2 separate regions of the Homo sapiens genome follow, and region 1 is linked to region 2. The links come from fine-mapping of genetic effects on gene expression. Tissue or cell type: fibroblasts. Region 2 holds a variant in brackets; the other region holds the start of a gene. All regions are shown on one strand. Distances are from middle to middle.

Region 1 (8,105 bases), 120 kb after region 2:
AAATGCCACCCATGCATAGTTTCTCTCTCACCTACCTGTTATTAAAGTTCAAGTTTGAAAATTATACCAGAAAGATTCCATTCATAAGCTCATAAGTCATCTACATTTTTTATGATCAATCATTTCACATGTTCTAATTTTTACTTTTAAATGTCTACTAAATGTAGGGGAAGTACTCTAGGAAATAGAACCGGAGCAGTTAACTTTACTTTGAAGAACATTGTGAAATACTTTAAAAGACTTGTGAGGGGTGGGGAACATCAATAACAGGCACTGGACACTAAGAAACAAGAAAGAGTGATAGGAACAGATTGTATTTGAAAGACATCAAAAGGTCCCCATGGTATCTTGTAAGATTATTATGTAAATAATGTGAAAAATCCCAAGAAATAAACTAACAAAAATTCCAAAGACAATACCTTTATCTGCATCATAGGACCCTTGCTCACTTCCATTTTCTACAATTCTTCCAGGAAGGGTTAATCTGCAGATTTAACACAGGTCTCATGAAGTCCTTAAATTATAACGTAACATAAGTGGCCATCAATACTTGCAAACATTTAACCATCAAAATATATCAATCATTTTTTAAGAAGTTCCTCAGTATTTCTTTCACATTTTAATAAACTAAGTTAGATTCTTTCCCCAACCAAGAAAGTAGAAATTAGAGATGACTCATCTTTCTATTTGAATACCCCTAGTCACCAACAAAATAGATACTGAAAAAGAAAAGCCATAATAAATAGTAGTTATCACTATTGTTATAACACAAGTTGAGTATCCCTAATCTGAAAATCTGAAATGCTCCAAAATCTGAAACTTTTTGAGCACCAACATGACACCACAAAGTGGAAAACTCCACACTTGACCTCATGTGATGAGTCACAGTCAAAAAGCAGTCAAAACTTGGCTGCATACACAAAAGTATTAAAAAATTACATAAAACTATCTTCTGGCTATATGTATAAGGTGTATATAAAACAAATAAATTTTGTGTTTAAACTTGAGTTCCATCCTCAAGATATCTCATTATGTATGCAAAAATATTCCAAAACTCTAGAAAATCTGAAATTTCATATAAGGGACACTCAATCTGTACAGATAAGGGATACTCAATGGGAAACAATAAAGAAACACAAAACCAATTGATTTTATCAGGCAAATTACTACTTTAAAAAAAAAGCAGAAAGCAAAAGTGTCAAATCTCATCATTATTATGTAGGGATTTACCCCTCTTTTGTACTAAAAGAAATGAAGTGATTGGCTGGGCGTGGTGGCTTACGCCTGTAATCCTAGCACTTTGGGAGGCCGAGGTGGGTCGATCACCTTAGGTCAGGAGTTCAAGACCAACATGGCCAAAATGGAGAAACCCTATATCTACTAAAAATACAAAATTAGCCAGGCATAGTGGTGCACACCTGTAACCCCAGCCAGTCAGGAGGCTGAGGCAGAAGAATCACTTGAACCCAGGAAGGGGAGGTTGCAGTGAGCCGAGATCATTTGCCACTGCACTCCAGCCTGGGCAACAGAGTGAGATTCTGTGTCCAAAAAAAAAAAAAGAAAAAAGAAATGAAGTGATTTCCCTGCTTCCAGTTTTACCCTAGTTCAATCAGTCTTCCACTGAGGCTCCAAAATAATTTTTCTAAAACAGGAATCTAATTGTCACTTTTCTATTTTAAAAAGTGTCTATGGCTGCCTCATGTTGCCTAGATAATTTAAACTTATCAGAAGGGCATATCAGGCCCACTCCATATCATTCCAAACTTGAAATTTGAGCTTCCTTTCTTCCCATGGCCCTCCCCCTTGTTTCCTACTAAATATGATTAAAAACAAAAACAGCTGACAGTCCCAAAAGGCCCAGGACCTTTAATCCCAAGGTTTCCTCAAGCTTCAATACATTTTCAGAATGAAAATCCCTCTAAGCCAGAATAAGGGGTCAGTTTATGGATGAGTTTGTTATAATGGTTACAAACGCTAACTTTAGTGTCAGAATCTGAATTAACTCCTAGATCTGCCATTTACCAGATGTGTAACAACCTTCTTTGTACAAGTTAATTATTCTTCAAGAATCATAAATCCCTCTTCTGTAAAGGGGGGAAATAACAGTAACTATCCAAGCGTTACTATGAGCATGAAATGATAATGCAAAGAGCTTAGTGGCCGGCACAACAGGTGAGCATTCAGAAAATGTGAGCTATTATTACCAGCTCCCTTCCCCTAAACTCTATAAGCCTAGAGTTAAATTCTTACTGCAGAGAAAATTATATTTGCTTACATGGGGCCTCCGCAGCTACAGTCTCCATTCTTCAAGGAGAGGGACCAGGTTTTATTCATCCTTGGTATAGCAAACTGTATGTTCTTTTTTTTTTTTTTTTTAGACAGTCTCGCTCTGTTACTCAGGCTGGAGTGCGATAGCGCAATCTTGGCTCACTGCAACCTTCGCCCCCCAGGTTCAAGCGATTCTCTCACCTCAAGCTTCCCAAGTAGCTAGGACTACAAGCGCGTGCCATCAAGCCCAGATAATTTTTTTGTATTTTTAGTACAGATGGGGTTTAACCATGTTGGTCAGGCCGGTCTCAAACTCCTGACCTCAAGTGATCTGCCCACCTCGGCATCCCAAAGTGCTGGGATTACAGGAGTGAGCCACCACATCTGGGGGCAAACTGTATTATCAAAGAATGCCCATCTCACAGCACTCTTCCCAACCATGAAGGTCTATGTTCCCTCCCCTTAAAATTCAGCAGGCTCTGGGACTGTTTTGATGAATACAATAAAGCAGAAGTGACACAGGAATTAGACCTTTAACATATGAATTTGGGGACAAGAGTTGGGGGGGTGCCCACAAATAATCCATCCACGGCAACGGGTAAATAATAAAGCCTCGTTGTAACACTGTCCTAATAACAAATGAGATAATCCGTATAAAGCACTAACCTGGAGTAAAAATTCAATAAATATTTGCTACCACCATAATCTTCTTCCTATTCTTCACATCTTGGCTTAAATATCGCCTCCCCAGAAAGGCTTTTCCTGACCACTTTATAAAACATGGGCCCTTTTTCATTCTCTATTAGTGCACTTCTTTCTCCTCATAGCACTCACCACAATTAAGTACACTGTTTATTGTTTTCCTCTCCCCAGTGAAAAGTACATGAGGGCAGGACTTTGTCTTGTTCAGCACAATAATACCAACACTGAAACTCAATAAATAAATTAAAGAAATAAGTGAATTAAAAAACTGGAAAGTGCAATAATTCAAATACGGACGTTATATGGTCTAAGGGAAATCTGAGCAAAACTGGTTCAGCAACAGTGAAAAAACCACCTTGACTGGTGGAGAAGGTTTGTACCACAAAAGTACTTGGGTGGGAAAAGTAGGATGCAGCTACACTTCAGAAAGATTAGGAGGATGGATAAAGAGAAGGACAAGAGATTGGCAATACTTTAGGATGAATATGTAGCAGCGGGTTCTGTGGAATGGGGTTAATAGCAGTGCTTATCCCTAAGGATCACCGTCAAAGTTAAATGAGATACACCATCATAAAGCACTTAACGGAACTGCTTGTCCACCACACTACGAGTTATCAGTGTTAGCTGCTACCAAGGTTACGATTCTGCAAGGAGAATAATTTAAACAGATCAAGTGCTGACAGACCCTCACGGAGACTTGGGGGAAACAACCACACTTCAGGGACAAAACCAAACAGAAGAGCAGCAGACAGCAGGGAAGCAGGAGAACTAGGCTAATTTGGTGTCAAGAGGTCCAAAAAAGGTAAGAATTTCGGTAAGTAGGGAGCGGACAGACAAGAGATAGATCAACAGAAGGCGGCCTGGGCAAAGTTAAAAGGACCGACGGGTTGGGAAGTCACGGAGATGTCAGCGCGCGCCGTTCCCAGGAAGGGAGAGACTGGGAGAGCAAACGCGGAGTGAAAGGAAAGAACAGAACAAGTCAGAACGGGACGAGAACTAGGGCGACAGGGCAGAAACGGGAAAGTGACACGGTCCAAACGTCACTTTTTCAAGTGATTCCGCAATCCTTTGATATGGGATTTAAGAAAGCTCAAGAAGGAAAAGGGCTTCCGCAGCATCTAAAACGCACCCCTGGAAGAGGGCAGTTCCCTGGCACCAAGAGAAGCTGCGGAAACGTCGGGAAAAGGCATTCGCGCAATCGAGCACTGCTCTCTCGACCTTGCATTCTCCCTCTAAAGCAGCTATCTAACGAATGCGCCTTTCCTGCGGCCAGGCACCCCGAACTCGCCTGAGAAAGTATGGCTTGGCGTAGAACTTGAAGTCAGACCCCTCGAAGTAGACGTCGAACTCGGAGACCCGGGCGTAGGGCACGCGGATGGCGATAGTCAGGAAGTCCGGATCCTGGCTGAGGTCGAACGCCGGGGTCAGCATCGCCGCACCGGACGCAAGGGCCGGCGCCGCTCGCTCTCACTGCCGCCGCGTTCCCGCCACGCAAACTCTCCAACTCCCCACGCGCAGGAACTCTCGGTGTGAGGGACGGAGCTTCCGGCTCGAGGCGGAAGTGCTCGCGCGTAAGGCAGGAAGTCTCTCCCCACGCCAATCTCCATGGAGACGGGACGCCGTTCGAGAAGAGGCGGAACTTTCAAAACCCCCGGGCGGAGAAAGGGCGTGGCGAGTGGTGCCTGGGAGCCGGCGTTGAACCGGCGGGATGACTAGCAACCGAGCCTTTTTCGAGGTTCTTAGAGATGATTTTAACAGCACTGGCTTGACAGGTAAACAGACGTGCGTTTGAATCCCTTCCTGGCCACAACTTCTCAGCTGTAAGACCTTGGGAAAGTTACAAAACCTCTCTATATCTTCTGTAAAACGCGGATAATGCGAGAACCTAGCCCCATAGAAATGCTGTGAGGGTAGCATGAAATTGTGCATGTAGAACTCTAATAACGAACTTGGCAAGTTGTCAACGCTTGATGTGCTGAAGTAGTCACCGCAGTAGCCACAGCAGCACCGTTACAGTGGTTTCCCTTAGTTCTCACCTGCCTTGTGAACAATTCCTCTTACACTTTCCCTTTCCTCCCTCTCTCTTTCCACTTCTCTTTTTCTGCAGCTTTCTCTCTCATTCTTAACGGCTTATTTGAAGAGTTTTCTCTTTAACAGAGCGTCCGTCCCGCTAATCTCATCTAATCTACGCTGCAAACTCTAAAGAAAACGGCTCAGAGAGGTTAATCAGTACGTTTTATAACCATGCATTTTACAGTAATTAGAACTCAGAACGTTTGACTCTTAAACCGTGTCGGTGACTGCATTCACAAATTAAGGTCCCTCTGTATTCCCCTTCTTTCCTTTTTCTCACTCTTGTCCTTACACTTGTCTGAGGACATCTTTTCTGTCTTTTTTTCTACTTGTCTTCCTTGTATTTTCTCCCTTTGGAGTGTGCCCCTTACACTCTCTCAGTGCCTCTCCCGCTGGTTTCCCTCTTCCCCCACATATTCCCTTGGCCTTTCCACACATGTTGTTTCCTGTTATTCCACCACTAATTAGAATAATCCAGTTGTGGTATTTATTCCGTGGTTTTAAGTATCAGTGGAAAAGGGATGAAAAGTACTCTCCTAGGACAGTGGAGATAACCAGAAAACTTCAAAAGTCTTTTCAATCTCCAGCTGTTTTATGATTCTAAGGAGACATTCTTGAAACTTCATTAGGACTCAGAAAAAAAATTAATAGTAACAGGGGCTAACATTAACTGAATATTTACTATGTGCCAGCACTGCAGCAAACCCTTTGTAATGATCTCATTCTCCCTCCTGACCGCTCTATGAAGTAGGCATTATATATTCCCTTGGCTTGCACAGGATCTCACAGCTAGTAAGTGGTGCAATGGGAATTGAAACCCAGGTGAGTCTGATTCCTAGGCCCAGGCTCTACACTATTACAGAGTTGACTCCCTCTGTTATTACCACCTACTTTGTTTCACATTCTAAAGCCAAGCCTGCCTGCTTTAGACCATACTGAGCCTTACAAGTAATAGGCACTCAATATTGACAATGAATTGATGCCAACTTTGATTTAATAAAGCTCTCAAAAGGTCCCTTGAGATAGGCCTGTGACTAAACTATTCCAAATTAGCTTCTTTACAAAGAATCTTGGCCGGGAGCGGTGGCTCACACCTGTAATCCCACCACTTTGGGAGGCCGAGGGGGTGGATCACCTGAGGTCAGGAGTTCGAGACTAGCCTGGCCAAGATGGTGAAACTCCGTCTCTACTAAAAATACAAAAATTAGCCAGGCATGGTGGTGTGTGCCTATAATCCCAGCTACTCAGGAGGCTGAGGCAGGAGAATCCCTTGAACCCAGGAGGCGGAAGTTGCAGTAAGCCGAGATTGTGCCATTTCACTCCAGCCTGGGTGACAAGAGTGAAACTCCATCTCAAAAAAAAAAAAAAGAAATAATCTTTACATCTGCCATGGGACCTCATTCCTGTAGGTCACAAGCATTAATATTTTTAAATTATTAATGCCAGAGAATCAACTGAAACAAGCTATGCTATCCATGAGGAAATTCTAATTGAAAGCACTTTGCAAACTAGAGCTGTGCATTTCCTGGGTACTTTATTATGTGTCTGGCAACACACACACACACAGGACTGCAACACAGGAAAACAGACAACATGGTTCAGTGCTGCCGTCATTATAAGAAATATATACTGCATCTGCTAAATCACAAAATACGGATAGTTTCAAGTATATAACAAGGTTTTGTTGTTTTGGGTTTCTGTTGGTTTTTGTTTTCTTGCAGGCAATAGTTCTCTTATTTTTGCATTTCTATTAGTGGTAAATATAAGTTATAGATTCATTCTCACTTAAGAACATAAAGTTCCTTTTGGCTGCCATGCAACTTTGGTTCTTTCTCCTGCTTCCTCAAAGGCAGTCCTAGCTATCACTTCAGACCCTTTTCTATTTCTACATCCATTTCTATGGACCCTGTTGCTTTGTGTTTAGACCCACTTTATATGGGCACATTCTCACACTATGAAAGTAATTCTGCAACATGCTTTTTTTCCTACTTTGGTTCATTTTTGAGACATAGCTATATTGATTCATAGATCAAATTGAGTTTCTATTTCTGAATACAGACATTGCTTGAGAATAAAGACATTATTTTAATGTTTTAAATTAGCTCTGGTTTAGAGGGGAAAACAGGAATGCAATTTTTCATCATTTTTGAGCATTCAAATGTTGCAGTGTTTTTTATCTTTTCATTTTCTGAAAGCTTACTTTTGAATGGCCTTCCACTGTTTTAAAAATAGTTTTTCCTTCTGGCCTATAGAGAACATGAAATAAAATAATAAGATAAAGTTTTTTCCATGACCAACTTATGTAGGACAAGTGTGTAACCTATCATCTTTCATTATATTAAATTGGCCCCTCCTCTGGTCTAACAACCCTGATTGTGATCCATAAGCTTCCAAATTAAATGTTAAATTAAAAATGGTTTTTATAAACAATTCCAATGTCAGCTTTATTACCAAGTTCTATTGTTAGAAGTCTTTTAATGGTGAAATACTCCTTGTTTCCAGAAGGTGGCATGCATATAGGTGATTAAAACAATGTTATCTCAAAGAATGGAGCTTTAACCTATGTTGAAAAATAGCTTCCTGAATAAGTTGTTTATAGCGCTAGTTCATTCTCTGAGCCATTTTGGGGAGGTGGTGGAATCTTACACAGTATTTGCAAACTACGTCTTAACCACTGTTATTATTTTGGCATACATCTTTTCAGACTCCTATTCATAAAAGTATGGGAAGTATTTTCAACAAAAGAATGTCATAATCTATATTTGCTTTCTTCACTTAATATAGGATTACAGGCTGGGCACGGTCGCCCATGCCTGTAATCCCAGCACTTTGGGAGGCCTAGGCGGGTGGATCACTTGAGGTCAAGAATTTGAGACTGCTGTGGCCAACATGGGAAAACTTTGTTTCTACTAAAAATACAAAAAAATTAGCCAGGTGTGGTGGCACCACCTGTAATCCCAGCTACTCGGAAGGCTGTGAGGCAAAAGAATCCTTTGAACCTGGGAGGTGGAGGTTGCAGTGAGCTGAGATTGCACCATTGCACTCCAGCCTGGGTGACAGAG
Region 2 (8,105 bases):
TCCTGTAGGTAAACCCTGAGTTTTTTACCACGGCACTGAGGTCTCCAAGAGCCAATGAGGTCATCGAAAGAAAACATAATGAGCATGACTTTGGTTCCCCCTCAAACACACCCTGCCTACCCTTGCACTGAAATTTAATAATGTCCCCTCTACTTTCAGAATTCACCAGGAGGGACTCCCCACACATTGTGAAAAACTTAATCATCTCAGAAATCTAAATTCAACTGTTGCTGAATGAGTCATTTATTGTATTTCTTAGTCCCCTTCCACATAGAAACCTAAAGAATGTCCTCTCAGCTTTCATGGAAGAAAATGCTTCTCTCTCCTCGTGATCTGCTGTGCCTTATTTTATTAGCCAATCAGAACTCAGATGCTTATTCGTTGTTTTCTTTCTTTCCTTTTTTTTCTTTTTTTTAAAGCTTTGGCTACCACAAAGCTCAGAGCTAAATTCTGAGCTTGCTTCTAGGTACATTCATTCTTTAGTTTCTGGTTTTCTGGCAACTTAGATCCTTTGTTTACTCTTCCCTCATTCCCCTCTTTGAGAATTATTTCTCCCTGCCCAGAGCCCCATCCTTACTTTTTTTTTTTTTTTTTTTTTGAGACAACATCTCACTCCGTCACACAGGCTGGAGTGCAGTGGCATGATCTCGGCTCTCTGCAAGCTTCGCCTCCTGGGTTCAAGTGATTCTCCTGCCTCAGCCTCCCGAGTAGCTGGGACTACAGGCGCCTGCCACCACACTCGGCTAATTTTTATATTTTTATTAGAGAAGGGGTTTCACCACGTTGGCCAGGCTGGTCTCGAACTCCTGATCTCACGTGATCCGCCCACCTCGGACTCCCAAAGTGCTGGCATTGAAGGCCTGAGCCACCGTGCCCAGCCCCCATCCTTACTTAAGAACAACTAGGAGGTGGAGTGTGACTCAATTCCACCCTGGCCATAGCTGATTGGTCCAGGAGTGGACTCCTGGCTCAAGCCAGTTCCTGAGTCCTTACCTGAGGCGTGTTGGCACTGAGAGATGAGTCACCCTTGAGATGCCAGACTACAGAAGTCAATTTCACAAATTTCAGGAGTAGTCGGCAGCTGTGTTCCACAACATGGACTGGGTCACAAACAGTATAAAGAAAACCGGCAATGGGGATGGAGAAATCGCCCTCCCAGTTTCAAGCCCAGCTCTGTTCCTCCCCCTGGCTTCCCTGAGACACTGTTGCTGTTCTTTAATATATCCCTCCTTTTGTTTAAGCTACCTTGAGTTGGGTTTCTAAACTTGTTTTTTTTTTTGAGACGGCGTCTCACTCTGTTGCCCAGGCTGGAGTGCAGTGGCGCGATCTCGGCTCACTGCAAGCTCCGCCTCCCGGGTTCACGCCATTCTCCTGCCTCAGCCTCCCGAGTAGCTGGGACTACAGGCGCTTACCACCATGCCCAGCTAATTTTTTTTGTATTTTTAGTAGAGACAGGGTTTCACCTTGTTAGCCAGGATGGTTTCGGTCTCCTGACCTCGTGATCCGCCCGCCTTGGCCTCCCAAAGTGCTGGGATTACAGGCGTGAGCCACCGCACCCAGCTGGGTTTCTAAACTTTTTAACTGGTAACGGAAACTATGTTGTTTGCTGTTTGAAGTCCTCAAAAAACCGGGTGCGGTGGCTCACGCCTGTAATCCCAGCATGGTGGGAGGCCAAGGTGGGCGGATTGCTTGACTTCAGGAGTTCAAGACCAGCCTGGGCAACATAGCAAAAAGCCATCTCTACAAAAAATACAAAAATTGGCAGAGCAAGATGGCATGCACCTGTGTTCTCAGTTACTCAGGAGGCTAAGGTGGAAGGATTAGTTGCACCCAGGGAGGTCGAGGCGGTAGTGAGCCGTGATGGTACCACTGCCCTCTAGCCTGGTGGCAGAGCAAGACCTCTGTCTCAAGTAAATACATAAATAAATCCTCAAAAATAAAAATTGAACACTGCACCACGCACACTCAGGCTTTATTCAGCCTCTCCAAACTGGCCTCTGCACTCTCTTCCCTCATTCTCCTCCAGCATGGCAGCCTCCTTGCTATCCTCCTGATTCTCTGAGCTCCCATGCAGCCCAGGGCCTTTGCACTTGCTGCTCGCTCTGTGGAAAGTTCTCATCCTGGGGCCTCACAGGGCTGCTTCTTTCTTGTCCCCTCATCTCCTCAGAGAGGCCTTTCCCAACCGCACATCCTGGAGTTGCCCCCACCCCACTCCTCCGTTTCACTTCGTCCTGCTCATTTTCTTCACCATCTTTATCACTCTGAAATTATCTTAATGACTTGCTTGTTTACCTATGCCAGGTGTACACGCACACACTCAAATCTAACCTCTATGAAGTCACAGCTGTAAGCCCAGCCACGAGCACAGTGCCTGGGACACCGGAGGTACTCAGTAGATGCTTGTTGAATGAATAAATGTTCTTTGCAGTACAGAGTCCAAGTAATACCTCAGGTGTCAACCTCACATGGTTCTTGAGTTCCTCAGTATTTGTTTTACTGCTCTTTGTCTGTCCTGGCTGTTAGACTCCCCAGAGCCTTTCTGGAATGGGCAGAAGAAAAAAATAAGAGAATTTACTTAACAAATACTATGTACTAGGTATGTTTCTAAGCACTTTACGCATATTATTTAACCCTCCCAACAATCGTGTGAGGGCTAATAACGTAATATGATAGCTGGGTGGGGTGATGCAGCTATAGTCCCAGCTACTCAGGAGGCCAAGGCAGGAGGATTGCTTGAGCCCCAGAGTTTGAGACCAGCCTGAGAAAAACATTAAGATCCAGTCTCTACCAAAAAGAAATGTAGTACTATTATCACCATATGTTACAGATAAAGAAACTGAGGCACCAGGAGTGAAGTCACTGTTCCAAGGCCACCAGCCTATAAAGGCATAGCAAAGACTCCCGCCCAGGGAGTCAGATTTTAAGCCTGGGCCTGTGACCTCTCAGCCAGGCCGCCTCCCAGGCAAGTGGGAAAAGCACGTCCTCACTTCTTGGGCAGGGCAGTAAGATATGTATCTCTCATGCTTACGTTAGGCCCTTTCTTTTTTTTTTGGAGACAGAGACCAGCTCTGTCGCCCAGGTTGAGATCAGCAATGGCGTGATCTTGGCTCACTGCAACCTCTGCCTCCCAGGCTCAAGCAATTCTCCTGCCTCAGCCTCTGGAGTAGCTGAGATTACAGGTGCATGCCACCACGTCAGCTAATTTTTGTATTTTTAGTAGCAACGGGGTTTTGCCATGTTGGCCAGGCTGGTCTCGAACTCCTGACCTCAGGTGATCTGCCCACCTCTGCCTCCCAAAGTGCTGGGATTAC[A/C]GGTGTGAGCCACCACGCCGGGCCACATTTGGGCTTTTGGGCTGAATACAGGAAAGCGGTGCTCATTCCAGCACAAGCTCAGGGCGAAGCTCATCTGATGAGGACCATGACAGATTGCAGTGAGACACCTCGGGATGATTGAGGGCTTTCTCTAATCACACCAATTGATATCAATTACTGCGTCGGCCCCCTGAGAGCATCCCTGGGATTTCCACCTCATTAGATCATTGGTGCCAAATGAAGCAACAGGGTTCTGCGCCTCCTTCGGAGCTATTTGTGTTATAGGCAAAAATCGTAAAGGGTAACTGGAAAGGCACATCAGAAAGCCTCCAAGGAGCAGCAGCAGTCTAGTCAGAGGAACAGAGACTAAAACAGTCACAATTTAGTGCTGGAGGTTTCTGATTTCAGTCAACTCTTGACATCTCTGCCAAACTCCTGCTCCAGTTCTTACTGAAGTCTGCTATGTAGCCCCAGAACAAGCAAAACCATGGAACCAGGGGGTCCACGAAGGGCCATGGAGGCGGGGCTGTGAGTTCTGGGGCTTGGGGATTCAGCAATAGCAAGAATTCAGCTTTGTTGGGGACAATGCCAAGGGGGGTTTGAGGCTCCCCGTAGTTTCCACCCGTCACCCCCAATCAGTAAACCATACACAAACATGGCTTCAAAGCAGCCCCACCCCATGCGGCTGCCCCCTCCCAAGCCTCACCACCCAACCTCGTGCAGTTCCAAGGCAGCCACTCCTGCTCTTGCCAAACAACCCTCCGGAGGTCTACAGGATAAAAACAGGAAGGCAAGAAGCCAGGACACGTGGATTTCCTTATTGGCTTCTAAAGACAAAGGGGAGGAAGAGAAAGAGGCAGAAAGTGAAGAGAAGCCAAAGGAAATGGCCACACATCAGAGCTAGGAACAGATCCCAGACTTGATTATAAAGTCCTGAGGTTTCCTGGGATGGTGTTTGAGCAGAATGCGTTTTTGTTTTGTTTTCAGAAGCGTTTTGTTTTGTTTTCAATCGCAAGTCAGCCTTTGGGAGGGCAACGGTACAGGTGGATGCCTAAATTCATACCTCAGCTAATGAAACAGTGGAGAAGAGGCACAGACAATCTCTTGAGCCTGTTGAATCCAGAAGGACAGAAGTCTTGGTAACGGTGTCAGGCTCACCTTGTGGGTAGTGGGATGGGTGCTGTTGCCATTCTGACCAGATCACCTCCGCTCACACCTGCAACCAACACGGCTCATCAGCACACACATGCCACCCAAGCAGTTCATCAGGCACAACCCTGATCCTTCAGGAGGGCATTACTCTGGCCATGAGAGTGCACTCAGCCTGCGTGAAGAGCAAGCCGTGGAGTCCCTGGAAGCAGCCATCACCAAAGATGGGGCACTGGGATAATTTAGGGGCATGTTCCCTACTGTTCCCCAGGGCTCTCCAGTGGGACTGTGGTCTAGTTGTCCACGATGGCAACACACGGTGAATGCTTTGCTTCCCCTCCCTGTCTTACTTCCCTACTCTCTTACCAGTACTTCCTGGAGTCACCTCCCAAACAAAAGGATTTGCACTGCAATATCTGCCTCGGAGTCTGCTTCCAGGAAAACCCAAAGCAAGGCGGTGCTTTTGTGCAATTTATTAAGAGGAACCCCTCTGGGTTGATGGGGCTTCAGGGGTGCAGAGCCTGGCAAGCAACCCTTTCCTGTCAGTCTGACGAATTCCCACACCACGTACCAACAGGTAGGTGACATGTGGGCTCGATTTCAGCCTCACCTGACTCCTCTGAGGGGCATCTTTGCCCTGCACTAGAGGCCCGAGGCAGCTATAGACACATCCACCACTTCTGTCTTCTTGGCTTTGGACAGAAACAGTTAATCTGAAAGGAGCAACAAGTCTACATCTGAGGCATACCAGAAATTCCACCAACAGACTCTGAACCCTCCTGAAAATTCAGGGAGGGAGAAGAGCATGGAAGCCAACAGTGCAGAGTTTGGGGTGCGGCTGCTCTGAAGTCAAATCTGCCTCTACCACTTCCTTGCCGTGTGACTTGGGGTAAAGTATTTCACCTGTCTGGAGCTTCCATTGCCTCACCTGGAAAAGGGATGCAATTGCTTGAGGCACAAGTTAGGAAGCAAATCAACAGCATAGATGCAGTGCCTGGAGATCAGAAGGTGCCCTTTCAGTGTAAGTCCCTCCTCATTCTTCCCCCAAATGGCCTGAGGGGTTCACTACAGGGCCACGCCCAAGTGGGACCCAGAAGCAGAAGCCTCTGAGGCTCCTTGACGCTCAGAACCAGGTCAGTGCCATGCTGTTGTTGGATTCTCGCTGCTACTGAGAGCCCAGATATAAAATGTTAATGTGCAAGGAAGCCAGCCGACCAGGTGACGGTGACAAACCTCACGTCCCATCTGTTCTTCCCCTCCCTCCACTCCAGGTTGGGCACGAAAAACAACTCCGTGATTCCTCTTTGCTGAGTAAACTGATGCGTGAATGAACAAATAAACCTCTGAGAGATTCCAATGCCAGGGGAGGCCCCGAGCTTTTATCTTGTGACTTGTGTGCCAGGAGCATAAATAGTCACGGTTGCCCCTGGATTCGTTAGTGGCTCCTATTGGGTTTTGAGCCACCCCAGGCTTTCCTCACCTGGAGGTGCTGATTTCAACGTGAGTCACAGGCCTCCGAACTTAAGCACAGACCCTGCTGAGCTGATTATTCCACCCTAGAGAAATCGCCAATGTGACCTGTGAGAATGAAGATTCTTGGAGCCTGGGGCCGCTGCTCGTGCTGCCTCCAGCCTCCTGATCGACCAGTCCAGATAAGGCTGCATTACCCACCAGGAAACACACGCCTATAGCCACAAATTCCAGGTCTTGCAAACACATTGAGGACCAGGAAAAAAATAAAAGGCATTGGCTCGAAATAAAGAAAAAGATGCAAAATTGAAATGAAGAAATGCTTAATTAAATGTCTAAAAAACACTAGGTCCACTTTGTTCATTAAGTTTGTTTTCATTAAAATCTTATTACATCTAAACACAATTTATGGGTTGGTTCCCTCACTTTGTAATAACTCCTGAGTTTGCATGAGAAAGCACAGCCAATAGCATTATACAGTGAAGGAATTACTACTCATAGCCAAGTAAGTTCAAAAGCAAAATTCCACAAATTATTTTTTTATTTTTAATTTTCAAATTAAATTTTATTTTATTTTATTTATTTATTTTTGAGACGGAGTCTCACTGTCGCCCAGGCTGGAGTGCAGTGGCGCGATCTCGTCTCACTGCAGGCTCTGCCCCCCGGGGTTCACGCCATTCTCCTGCCTCGGCCTCCCGAGTAGCTGGGACTACAGGCGCCCGCCACCTCACCAGGCTAATTTTTTGTATTTTTAGTAGAGACGGGGTTTCACCGTGTTAGCCAGGATGGTCTCGATCTCCTGACCTCGTGATCCGCCTGCCTCGGCTTCCCAAAGTGCTGGAATTACAGGCGTGAGCCACCGTGCCCGGCCCTAAATTTTATTTTTTTAGAGACAGGGTCTCACTGTTGCCCAGGCTGGGGCACAGTGATGCAATCATAACTCACTGTAGCCCTGAACTCCTGGGTTCAAGTGATCCTCCCACCTCAGCCTCCCGAGTAGCTGGGACTACAGACATGTGTCACCACACCTGGATAATTTTTTATTTTGTGTAGAGATGGGGTATCACTATGTTGTGCAGGCTGATCTTGAATTCCTGGCCTCAAGTGATCCCCTGCCTCAGCCTCCCAAAGTGCTGAGATTACAGGCATAAGCCACTGTGCCAGGTTTAAAAATTCTTTAAAATGTATTTACATTAACAAACATATGATATAGGTACACTGGATACTTGATATATAATGTGGGAGAGGCTTCTAAAAGGAACCAGAGCCAACGGACATCTTAAAATGCCTCTGCTGTAGGGCCATGTGACTGTTATTGGTTCTTGGGGAACTCTTTACTAGGAAGTCCCTACTTTTCTCTCCTGGAGATGCCGATTTCTCCTGGGAAGTCAGTCACTGGCCACTACAGATACATACAAATAATGCCTATTATTTCAGTGGACGAAAATGGCCCTTTCATCTCTTAGAATTAAGACACTTCATGACCAGCAGTACACACACCTTCATCCAGCCTCTTGTCAATGTCAAATGTGTCAATCTCTCTCTCTCTCTCTCTCTTCCTCCCTTCTTCCTTCCATGTCTGCTTTCTGGTATATGCAATTTCTTTTCCAGAAAGGTTTTCCTCACATAGATACAAAGATAATCATCCTCTGAAAAATGGCTTCCTTCCAGCTTACCAACTCAGAAAAAGTATCATTTCTAGTAGCTCTGGCCAAAGCCCCAAGAGGACTTTGATTGACTAGGCTTGAGACACCTGCTTATTGCTGAACCAATCACTGTGGCCAGAAGAACAGGGTACTCTGATTGGCCAGACCTGAGCCATGGGACCACCCCTGTGGTGGGATTCGGGGTAGTATCAGCCTCATTCCTCTTGTCCCAGCTTTCTGCACAGCCTCCCCCAGGAGGGCATGGAAACCCCAGAAGCCATGGGCCAGGCATCCAAAATGCTACTGGATAGGTATTCACAAACCCCTTCTCTTAAACCAGGGATTGGCAACCTTTTTCTGTAAAGGTCCAGATGGTACAATATTCTAAGTTTTATGGACCAAGGGGCAGAATCAAGGCTATTAGGTAAGTACCTACATAACAAAAGAGAAAAGACATTTCCATAAATTCTTTTCAATCATTAAAAAGTTTTTTTAAAAAATCCTCAGTTTGGGCTGGGCGCGGTGGCAC

What was found. PIP is the estimated chance that this variant, and not a neighbour inherited with it, causes the effect.
Region 1: SHQ1 starts here. The variant in region 2 is fine-mapped to the expression of SHQ1 in fibroblasts (GTEx, PIP above 0.99).

The regions. Positions count from the first base shown.
Region 1 is chr3:72,843,940-72,852,044 of GRCh38, forward strand. It overlaps SHQ1 (SHQ1, H/ACA ribonucleoprotein assembly factor), which reads right to left and starts at 4,506. Exons shown (of 11, transcript NM_018130.3): 1 at 4,259-4,506; 2 at 420-484. The coding sequence starts at 4,401. RefSeq lists an enhancer at 4,725-4,824.
Region 2 is chr3:72,723,317-72,731,421 of GRCh38, forward strand. It overlaps a transcript of SHQ1 not described here. Among named protein-coding and RNA genes, the nearest start is that of SHQ1, 120 kb to the right of the region's middle. The variant A/C (reference allele first, on the strand shown) is at 3,312.